Homo sapiens: one gene and its partners. The protein of the gene in region 2 interacts with the protein of the main gene of each other region in a biochemical or structural test. Each region holds a gene or a part of one and is shown on either strand. Other genes may lie near its edges. The genes, in order: CDC42, NCF2 and AKT1.

Region 1 (3,649 bases), about 160 Mb from region 2:
GAATGCCTGAACTCAAGCTATTTGCTCCTGTTGGCCTCTGAAAGTGCTGGGATATAGGCATGAGCTGCTGTGCCGCTGACAGGCTTTCTTGGAAGTAAAAGACTAGTTGTGCTTTTATTTATAGATGTATTTTAAATGCACTTCTCTATTGTTTTAGAGTTTTTTTTTTTTTTTTTTTGAGAGGATGAGAAACAATGAGCACCTTAGGCTACAGGGCTTCCTTTGAAGGGGAGAGAGGGTTAAATATTGTGTTAACATATCTTCCATGAAAATATCTCTCTGTATTAAAAGGCTTCATTCTGGAATTTTATGGTAATGCCTTATTCAGTGTTCTCTTCCACATAGATTTCCTCATTAGATTGTAAGTTCTGTGAGGGCAGGGCTTTGGCCTGGCATGGTCACCCCATTGCTAATGCCTAGAATACTGCCATACATACAGTAGGTTTTAAGAAATATTTTTTAAGTGAATGAATTTGATGATGTCTGAGGGTTAACGTTTTCCCTAATATTCCATGGGCCTTTTTGCTGTGTTTCCTGAGACAGCTTTTGTGCTTGGTCAGCCATATCTTTATTTGGGCTCATTGAAGTAGTGATTACTAATCTACTCTTGCTTGACTTTTTCCATCTGTTTAGGTCAGTATCTTCTGCAGCTGCACTGTCTGGACAATTTACCATCACTTAGAAAATCTGTGATGACTACTAGTTCTCTTACTCTCCTAAAAATTATTCACTTAATGTTTGTTTCCTTATCTTCCTTTATTTCTTTGTTTGCAAATAACTTTTACCGCTTGTTCACTACTGTATCAGATTCCTGGTCATGTTATGCTTTGTGTCTTACTAGTTTCTACTTTTAGTTTCTCATACCTTCAGTCCAAAATATTTTTACTAAAGCAATTTTCATTACTTGCCATTTCAGCTACCTCTGCTGCTGCTGCTGCTATTTTAAGTCCTGAATGTCAAAACTCTTCTGGGACATTGATCTCAAACTGCTTATTCCGTGAAGTGAAACCAGGCTTTCTGCCACCAATGTGGCGTCCCTTTTTGCAATTTTAGAAAAATATTTTTTAAATCAAAGATTTGGCATTAGCCATTATACTAAAGTCCAGAACAATTTCTAATAGAGCAGAAAACTATATTGTTCAGCCATGGTATTCACTAAGCACTGGTGCTCTATCACCTTAAGACAAAGTCTGATTTAGGCTCTGTTACTGTTGTTCTGTAATGCTTTACACTTTAACCTTGCATCCTTTTCTGTAAAATTAAGCCATTGCCATTTGCCATTTCAATTCTGCTGTGTGTTCTTGATTGGTATATTGCTACTATAATGATTAAAAGCATAGACTCTGGAACCAGACTGCCTGGGTTCAGATCCTGGTTCTGCCACTTATTAGGTATGTGCAGTCTAAGTAACGTCTTTGTGACTCAGGTTTACTTCCTCTAAAATAGGGGTAGCAGTAGTGCTTACCTAACAGGGCTGCAGTGTTAGGAAGATTGAATTAATATATATGAAGTGTTTAGGACTGTTCACTGGCACATAGTGAGTGCTGTATAGATTTTTGCTCTTGGCACAACTGTGAGGACCCTTCCCCGCCATCTTTGAGAAGCTGTGTTTCTCTCAAACATAAACATTTTAATAACCATCCTTCTCCCGGACTAATCTGATGAATCCAAAAACATTTCTTTTTTCTTTTTTGAGATGGAGTTTTGCTCTTGTTGCCCAGGCTGGAGTGCAATGGCGCGATCTCGGCTCACCGCAACCTCCGCCTCCTGGATTCAAGTAATTTTCCTGCCTCGGCCTCTTGAGTAGCTGGGATTGCAGGCATGCGTCAGCGCCCCTGGCTAATTTTGTATTTTTCGTAGAGATGGGGTTTCTCTATGTTGGTCAGGCTGGTCTCCAACTCCTGACCTCAGGTGATCCGCCCGTCTCGGCCTCTCAAAGTACTGGGATTACAGGCATAAGCCACTATGTCTAGCCCAAAAACATTTCTAAATGAAGTGGAGATTGCTTTACCTTTTTTTTTTCTTTTTTTTTTGAGACAGAGTCTCGCTCTGTCACCCAGGCTGGAGTGCAGTGGCATGATCTTGGCTCACTGCAACCTCTGCCTCCCGGGTTCAAGTGATTCTCCTGCTTCGGCCTCCTGAGTAGCTGGGATTACAGGTGTCCGCCACCACACCCGGGTAATTTTCGTATTTTTAGTAGAGGTGGGGGGGTTTCACCATGTTGGTCAGGCTGGTCTGTAACTCCTGACCTCACGTGATCTGCCTGCCTCGGCCTCCCAAAGTGCTGGAATTAACAGGCGTGAGCCGCTGCATTCCGGCCTCCTTTACATTTTTATCCGTTACCTTTACCGTTGTCATAGAAGCAAGGGTGTCAGGCCTCAGGTATGCAGTATAGTCTGTGGACCCATCAGCATAAGTGTCACCTGGGAGCTCATTAGAACTATCAGGATTCATCCCAGTCTTACTGACCCAGAATCTTATTTTAATAAGATCCCCACATGATTTTTATGTGTATTAAGGCTTGAAGCACCCTCTTCAGGACTGCTAGAGTGATGTCTCAAATTTCGGAAACAATGTGAATGCTTTATTTCATTTTATTTTCCTATGGAAGCATAACCTGGTTTATTTTAGGCAGTGTACCACAATTTATTGCAAGGATCATAATCTGAAAATGAATCTGAAGCATATTTAGTTTTTAAAGGAATTGTTGCTTCCTGCCTATTACGTAGAATTGCCTCATGTCTGCCCATTATCAGGAACTAATGTGTTATTTAAAGTTTTTTTTTTTTTTGAGATGGAGTTTTGCCCTTGTTGCCCAGGCTGGAGTGCAATGGCATGATCTCCACTCACTGCAACCTCCACCTCCCGGGTTCAAGTGATTCTCCTGCCTCAACCTCCCGAGTAGCTGGGATTACAGGCATGTGCCAGCATGCCTGGCTGATCTTGTATTTTTAGTAGAGATGGGGTTTCTCCATGTTGGGAGTTTCTCCATGCTGGTCAGGCTGGTCTCAAACTCCCGACCTCAGGTGATCCACCCACCTTGGCCTCCCATAGTGCTGGGATTACAGGCGTGAACCACCGCACCCAGCCGAATTACGTATTTTTTAATTTTATTTTTATTTTTTAGAGATAGAGTCTTGCTATGTCACCAGGCTGCAGTGCGTGGTGTGATTATAGCTCACTGTAACCTTGAACTCCTGGGCTTAAAGGATCCTCCAACCTCAGCCTCCCAAGTAGCTGGGATTGCAGGCACGCACCACCACACTTGGCTAATTGTAAATATATATATATATTTTTGTAGAGAATGGGGCCTTTTTATGTTGCCCAGGTTGTTCTTGAACTCCTGGCCTCAAGTGACCTCCCACCTTGGCCTCCCAGAGCTGTGGGATTACAGTTGTGAGCCTCTGCACCGGGCCTTAATTTTTTTTTTTTTTGAGACGGAGTTTTGCTCTTGTTGCCCAGGCTGGAGTGCAATGGCGCAATCTCGGCTCACCGCAACCTCCGCCTCCCAGGTTCAAGTGATTCTCCTGCCTCCACCTCCCTAGTAGCTGGGATTACAGGCATGTGCCACCACAGCACGGGGCCTTAATTATACATTTGAACTTAAGTGACATTTTATTGAAAACTAATTGTGGTGACGAGGAATGGT
Region 2 (3,649 bases):
TAGCTGGGACCACAGGCATGTGCCACCACATCTGACTAATTTTTAAATTTTTCGTAGAGATGGAGTCTCACTATTTTGCCCAGGTTGGTCTTGAACTCCTGGGCTCAAGTGATCCACCTGCCTTGGCCTCCCAAAGTGCTGGGATTACAGGTGTGAGCAACCGCACCTGGGAATTATTGGATTCTTGTGTAGCTTTTCTAGGCCATATATGACTAACAAAAGCAGAAATCAGATGGTATATGTATGGCTCCAGGAATGTTTTGTAGATCCACAGCAGAACTGGAATGACAATACAAGGAATGCACACCATTGTCCCAGACTTCAGCTTCTAAATGTGAGAGCGAAGTGGGGTGCACCGTGAGAGCACAGGGTGGGCCTCGAGGTGCCGACGAGGGCAGACAGCAGAGCTGGGCACCACAGGGAGCTAGGGCTCTGTGAGCCGTGGCTCATCTCACACCTCCTCACTGCCTTGCATCATGGCCATGTCTGGACCCTTCTCTCCTCAGGCCTTTACCAGAAGCATTAACCGAGACAAGCACTTGGCAGTGGCTTACTTCCAACGAGGGATGCTCTACTACCAGACAGAGAAGTAAGTGGTTCAATGTTGCACCAACTGGAGGATTTCAGAGAGAAACCCAAGGGGTCTCAGTGTTGCGGGCTTGGTGTTTGAGCAGTACCTTCCCAACCTCTGTTGGGAAATGTGACTGGCCCTTCTGGGGACAGTTATGCAATAAATCAGCAGGTGAGGCAGAAGCTCTCACTGGGGAGGCAAGGCAGGTCTGCCACCAGATTATAAATCAGCTGTGTCATAGGCACAATGAGCCTAGGTAACCACCATGGGCCTGATACTCAGCTGGTGTGACACCCCACCAGTGTCCCTGATGGGGTCACCCATGTAGGTCTCCTATGAGGTACTGAGCTGTCACAGAATGGGGATGATCATGAAACTGCATCAAAACCTGGCTTCATCCCAGCAAAATGCATTTCCAAAACCTGGTTTAATCCATTTGAGGAAATATACTTCAGCTGCAAAAATGATAATACAAATTAACATTATATGTATAAGAATAAATTACTACAGATAAGTAAGTAGCGTATGCACTTATACAGAAAAAGTTTGCAGTAGATGTTAATTTTTTTTCTTTTTCCGAGACAGAGTTTCACTCTTGTTGCCCAGGCTGGAGTGCAAGGGCTCGATCTCAGCTCACCGCAGCCTCCGCCTCCCAGGCTCAAGCGATTCTCCTGGCTTACCCTCCCGAGTAGCTGGGACTACAGGCATGCGCCACCACACCCAGCTAATTTTGTATTTTTAGTAGAGATGGGGTTTCTCCATGTTGGTCAGGCTGGTCTTGAACTCCCGACCTCAGGTGATCTGCCCACCTCAGCCCCCCAAAGTGCTGGGATTACAGGCATGTGCCACCACGCCCAGCCAGATGTTAAATTTAAAAACAGATTTCAAAACAGTTCATATAGCATAGTCCCATTTCTGTATCACAGAATAAAGTCTGGAAGGCCATAGATCAAAATGTTATCAATAATTCTCTCTGGATGGTGGGATTATAGGAAAATCCATTTTCTTCTATCACCCTGTCTGCATTTTTAGGTTTGTTTATAGTCAACATGGAATAATTAGTACAAAGATTAATAAATTCAAAATGAAAGTTAATCTCAATTCCTCCTCCCTCTCATCCTGCACAAATACCTCATAACAAATAACAAAGGAAAAAAATTCTAAGTGATAATTTCAAATGTTTTGGGGCATGGGAAACTGACCCTTTGTAGAAACTGTTCCACCAGTGTGCATCAGTTCTAGGGAAGAGGAATTTGGCTCAGGCTAATGAAGAATTTTTTTTTTTTTTGAGACGGAGTTTCGCCCTGTCACCCAGGCTGGAGTGCAGTGGCGCGATCTCGGCTCACTGCAACCTCTGCCTTCCACGTTCAAACAATTCTCTTGCCTCAGCCTCCCAAGTAGCTGGGATTACAGGTGCCCGCCACTACGTCCAGCTAATTTGTGTATTTTTCAGTAGAGACAGGGTTTCACCATGTTGGCCACGCTGGTCTCGAACTCCTGACCTTGTGATCCACCCGCCTCGGCCTCCCAAAGTACTGGGATTACAGGCATGAGTCACTGAGCCCAGCCTAATAAAGAACTTTCTGACAGTGAAAATGATCTGTGCATGGTGTGGGTGGGGTGAGGGTGAGGCCGGGCGTGGATGGAGCAGCAGGGAGGTTGTAGACAATGTCCAGACATCAGAGAGAGGGCTGGGCTCTGATCCTGTGCCACCCTGAAAGGCTTTGATCCTATGGTTTGGTCAGAAACAGAGCCTGTAAAACCCATGTATGCAGCTGTTGCTAAGGGCAACCACAAGATGCTCAAAGGACCTTAAAGATGTAGATGCAGTTAGTTACCTGAAGAAGTGAAAGTAGAAGTGAAGTCTTTTCTAAAAGAAAAACCACAGACACAATGGCAATCTGGGGAGAAAGAGAGCCTGGGATTGGGAGAAGATATCCAGGCATTTAGCTCTCTCTTCCCCCCATATTTAGTGTGACATATTTATTGTGACTTTATAAATTCTTTTTTTAATTTTAATTTTTTATTTTAATGTTTGTGGGTATGCAGTAGGTGTATATATTTATGGGACACATGAGATATTTTGGTACAGCAGGTGTTTATCTTGACCGACGTCTTGCCTCTAACTGCCTGTCCCCGCTCTTAACATCCTTCTCTTTCTCACTCCCCCTTACCCCGTCTCCAGACTATAGAATATGCAGGGAGGCCTAACAACAAATCCTTCAGCCGATCTTAAATCTCAAAACGCAAACTCTAAGGTCATTCCTTAGTGACCTCTAATAGTCTATAAAGAAGAGATACAACTGGCAAAAGAGTGAAGGCTCCCAGAAAGAATTTCCTCCAAAAAATGCCCGTGAGTCCCAGGATCTGGAAGGCCACGGTTTTGAGTGATTAGAAAGATCTTGGAAACTTCTAAAAGTAAGACCCAGGATTCAATTAATCTGTGATTGGTAATATTAATAGTTACACCTGAGAGAAAAATCTACCGAGTTTTATCTGTAATTCAACAATGAGGAAATTATACAAATGAGGCACTAATCTCAACCTCAAGCAGGCCCTCTTGCGCAATTCCCTAGGTGTTGGTATTCCCTTTGAAGTTCTGTTCTTGACCCTTTTCCCTTTTACAACTGCAGCAGTGGTTGTTAAATGGCAAAATGTGTTTCCAGAAATACACTTTCAAGCACACACATTCGTTTATGTACAATTCAGGGGCTATAGATATGAAGTCCGTATGTGAACCTTGAGGATCCATTCCTGGGCAAGGCCACCCTCTCCCATATGGCTGGCCTCCATTTCTCACAGAATCTGTACCTGAGATCCATCCAGGGAATGTCTCTTTCCCTAAACCTCATCAGGTTGACCTCTTAAATATTTCTTAAATCCACCTATTTCTCTCCATCCCCACTAGCACTGCCTTGGTTGAGACCCTCATTTTTCACCAGGACTACTGCAGTCACTTCCAAACTGATTTTCCAGCCACTGCTCTTGTCCCCTCCATTCATATTCCAGAGTGATCTTGTAAAATAAAAAAAAATTTAAAAAAAGCAATCTCTGTGAGAACTTCCAGTGGCTTCCATG
Region 3 (3,649 bases), on a different chromosome or scaffold from region 2:
AGGCCTGCTCCATGGTGGAGCGGAAGGAGGTGAAGAATTTGCAGTTTGTGTCAAGTTACAACCCCTGCCTTGGCGGCAGGACCTGGGGTCTCTCTGGTCATGATCTGCCTCTGAGGGTCACCTCCCCTAAGTCTCCGTTTTCCCAGGGAGCTGATGGGCATGATGAGCCCTGCCCGCCCTGCCTGCCTGGTGGGCTTTCTGGGAGAGCAGAATGGGTCCTGGGCTGGGCGAGGCCCAGGCAGGTGGAGCGCCAGTCCTCTGCCTGGCGGGAACAGACACCTCTCCTTGTGCAGACTGGCCACTTGTGCCCCCTCAGAAGGGCTTGTGCCGGGAGGAGCAGTGGATGTATTTCACCCACAGACCTGGGGGCTCCAGCCAAGTGGGGTCAGCTGGCCTCCGTTGTGTGGCCCCTCCCCTGCCCCCACCCCAGCCTGGTTGTTTACAGGGTTCGAGGGCTGCTGGTAAAGGGGTGTGTACTCCCGGGCCCGGGCAGAGGCCTGGCAGGCCGGGCCCTTCGCGGTGAGCTGTGCGGTCTCCTGGCAGGCGGGGAGGGTGGGTTGCGGGCCCCTCATGGGCTGCCGTCAGCGGAGCCGTCTGCTCAATGTGCTGGAGAAGGTAAATGGGCCCCCGGCAGCTGTCGGGGCGATGGATGTGTCGGCAGTGGGGACCACGGTGGCCGCTGTCAGCTGGCGCCCGCTCCCAGGGCCTGCTGGGCTCACTTTGCTGTGGAGAAGCAGCTCGGTGCCGCCTGGCACCCTGCCAGCCGCTGCCACCACCGTCTCTGCGAAGTGTTTATCCAGCAGTTTCCTGAGAACTGGGGACTTTGAGAGAATGTTCAGGGAGCTGAGGACGTGGTGGCCTAGGGGGGCTGACACACCTGGTGGCTCAGGAGGTGGTCAGTCCCGGGACGTGGAGGGCCACCAGCTGGCCCTCAGGGGCCCACCCAGTCCTGCCCATGGCGCGTGGGTCCTGGCCCCCATGTCTAAGTGGGTGCCGCTTTGGGGGGCCTGACCCACAGTGTGGCCTGGGACACGTGTGTGAGGCGTGGAGAGGGTGGGCTGCCTGTGACTGTCCATGTGGTCCCCGTGGTGGTGGTGGGGTGGGTTGGGGGAGGCCAGGCAGGAGCAGCTTCCTCTCAGAACCCCGGTATTTGGTCCAGGAGGACTTCTGGGAAGGAACCCTCTTTCCCTGGGGGTGCTCCAGCCCCTTCCTGGGGATGAGCGGGGTTGGGGATGGAAGGTCACTCCTGCCGGAGGGCCACCCGGGACATCGGGATGCCAGAGGGACCAGGGCTGGGGTTGTGTGGGGCCCAGGAGGTGCAGGAGGAGTCGAGGGAGCCTGGTCTCCGCTGTCCCCCCGGGCAGGGACAGGAGTCTGGCCAACTGCCTACCCCCCACCGAGGGCAGCCACCTCCCATGCCTGGAGCCCTGGGCCATGGATGTGCTGGCTGGTGGGGAGGGTTACGGGTTTCATCAGGCACAGGAGCCCCTGCCCTTGTGGCTTCACAGGACCTGGTCTTGGATAGGTGCAGTGTCACAGGGTTAAGGGTCAGGGTGGCTCCCACCTGGCCCAGGGCTGGCCTTGAGAGAACCCTGAAGGGTGGGACCGGAGCTGCTGCCTCCCACTGCCCAGGGGGCCAGCAGGAGGGTGAGACTGGAACTGCTGCTTCCCCGCTGCCGAGGGAACCGGCCATGGGGCAGGAGGGTGGGACCGGAGCTGCTGCTTCCCCCTTGCCCAGGGGACCAGCCATGGGGCAGGAAGGTGGGACCAGTCCCCAGTGCCGTCCTCCACTCGGCCCCCCACTCAGGTCTTCTGGCAGTGGTGTGGGGTCCCCCATCCGGACTTGCTGACATTTCTGAAGGGGCACCTAGCCGTCTTCCCTGCCAGACCCTGAGGCCCAGGCCGGGGTTGCACTGGGACCCTGCCTGCTCCAGGTCCCGGGTCTGAAACATGTGCAGCGGGTGGGGACTTGGGGGTTCTTGAGCCCAGCATGGGGGTGTGAGAGTTAGGGACTGAAGAGGCCCCCTGGGCCTGAATGCTGGGCGGTCTCCATTGCCCTTGGGAGTGGCTGCTGGCAGGAGATGACTCTGGCTGTGTGTGGGGTGGGGCGTGCCCTGGCCTCCCCATTTGTTGCCTGCCTGTACCCGTCTGGAGTGAGGGCCTGGCGTGGCAACCTGGGGGTCTGTGCCCACTCTGTGTTTGGTGCCCTCAGCTGTGCAGGCAGGTGGGTGGGGTGGTGTTGGGGGGGTGACTGGGGTGGGGTGGGGGGATGCCAGCTGGCTGATGGTGGGGAGATGGAAGGCCCCTCTGTGGCGGGTGCTTCCCATGGTCGGTGTGGAGGACGAGGTCCCTACTGCCTGGTTCCAGTTCCCCCAGCAATGCAGGGCACTTTTCCTGGGGTGTCAGGGATTGAGAGGCCACTCTTCAAGTGGACTGTACTCCTGCCTCGAGTGGGGGGCATCTGAGGACCACAACAGGGTGGGGAACTCAAGTTAAGTCCTGGATGACAGGTTCCAGTTCCCCTGGGGACCCTCAGGATAGTGAAGGAGAAGACTCCATGTGGGTTGGTCTCTTTGTGTGAGGGGTCTGGGAGGGCAGCCCTGGCTGATGTGTCTGTGCTCCCACCCTCCTGAGGGACCCGGAGTAGGCAGGTGCAGGCCTGCAGGCGTCCTGTGGCCATGAGGACAGTGATGCTGGGCCCCGGGTGGCTGTCTCCTCCACCTGCCCCGTCCTGTGTCACCCCAGTCCTGGATCAGGGAGTAGTGGGGCCCTGCCGCATCTGCTGTCGGGGCTGGCCGCCCACCCAGCATCCTGTCTGGGCTGAACTCGTTAAGATGCGCGCCACGGCCCTGGCTGCAGCTGGCACCCCCCCAAGTGATCCTCTAGCTGACCCTCTAGGCGAGAGATGAAGAAAGAGAACTGTGTGTCTCTGGACCCCTTACCCCGGGTCCCTGGGGATCCTGCTCCTCCCCTGGAGGGGTCTGTGTGCTGGGCTGGGATGCCGAAGACAAAGGCCACGTGAGGCCCCTTCACTCACACCCGTCTCCTGGGGTAGGCCCTGATCGCCGTCTGTTCCCTGGGTCTGTGGGGCCAGGCGAGGGGAAGGCACTGAAAGCCCAGGGCCCATTTGGGCCTCTGCCCATCCCAGGACTCCCCAGGAATGCTCGGGGCTGGGCACCTGTCCTCTCCCACCCCCCACGCCTGGTAAGCGCCGCCCCTGGGCCTGCCCCTCCCGCACCCCCAGATCCAGCTCCCAGAACCCCCCAGATGCAGCTCACAGAACCTGGGGCTGGGCTTGTGGCAGCAGGGTCAGGGGCAAGGCTGGGGTTGGGCACGGGAGCTGCGTGCTCGGGGGCAGCACGGGGCCATGCTGGGCACGGTGGGGGCTGGCAGCAGTTGGTGGATAAGATGGGTTTCAGGGGTGCCGGGCCTGGGCGCTCATCAGTCTTCCCGCTCAGTTAGCGTCCCGGGGAGTGGCAGCTGGCAGGATGGGAGGCACTCCATCAGGGGCCGACAGCTCCAGACTGGCATGCAGGCGGGTGGGCGTGAGCAGCGGGGTGGCCCAGGATGGGGGACGGGTGGGGTGGGCTGCATGCAGCCCCCTGAGCCTGCTCTGCTCTCACTGAGCGCCCCTGCCTGCCCGCTGCAC

Evidence for each region.
Region 1: the proteins of NCF2 (region 2) and CDC42 form a complex in vitro, tested with the Homo sapiens proteins (2 studies listed by BioGRID and IntAct).
Region 3: the proteins of NCF2 (region 2) and AKT1 interact in far-western blotting, tested with the Homo sapiens proteins (one study listed by BioGRID).

What each region holds. Positions count from the first base shown.
Region 1 is NC_000001.11:22,055,709-22,059,357, forward strand, and holds part of CDC42 (cell division control protein 42 homolog isoform 1 precursor), read left to right. Parts: intron 1-3,649. UniProt on the Homo sapiens protein: Plasma membrane-associated small GTPase which cycles between an active GTP-bound and an inactive GDP-bound state. In active state binds to a variety of effector proteins to regulate cellular responses. Involved in epithelial cell polarization processes.
Region 2 is NC_000001.11:183,583,835-183,587,483, reverse strand, and holds part of NCF2 (neutrophil cytosol factor 2), read left to right. Parts: intron 1-506; coding exon 507-589; intron 590-3,649. UniProt on the Homo sapiens protein: Subunit of the phagocyte NADPH oxidase complex that mediates the transfer of electrons from cytosolic NADPH to O2 to produce the superoxide anion (O2(-)).
Region 3 is NC_000014.9:104,782,112-104,785,760, reverse strand, and holds part of AKT1 (RAC-alpha serine/threonine-protein kinase), read left to right. Parts: intron 1-3,649. UniProt on the Homo sapiens protein: AKT1 is one of 3 closely related serine/threonine-protein kinases (AKT1, AKT2 and AKT3) called the AKT kinase, and which regulate many processes including metabolism, proliferation, cell survival, growth and angiogenesis.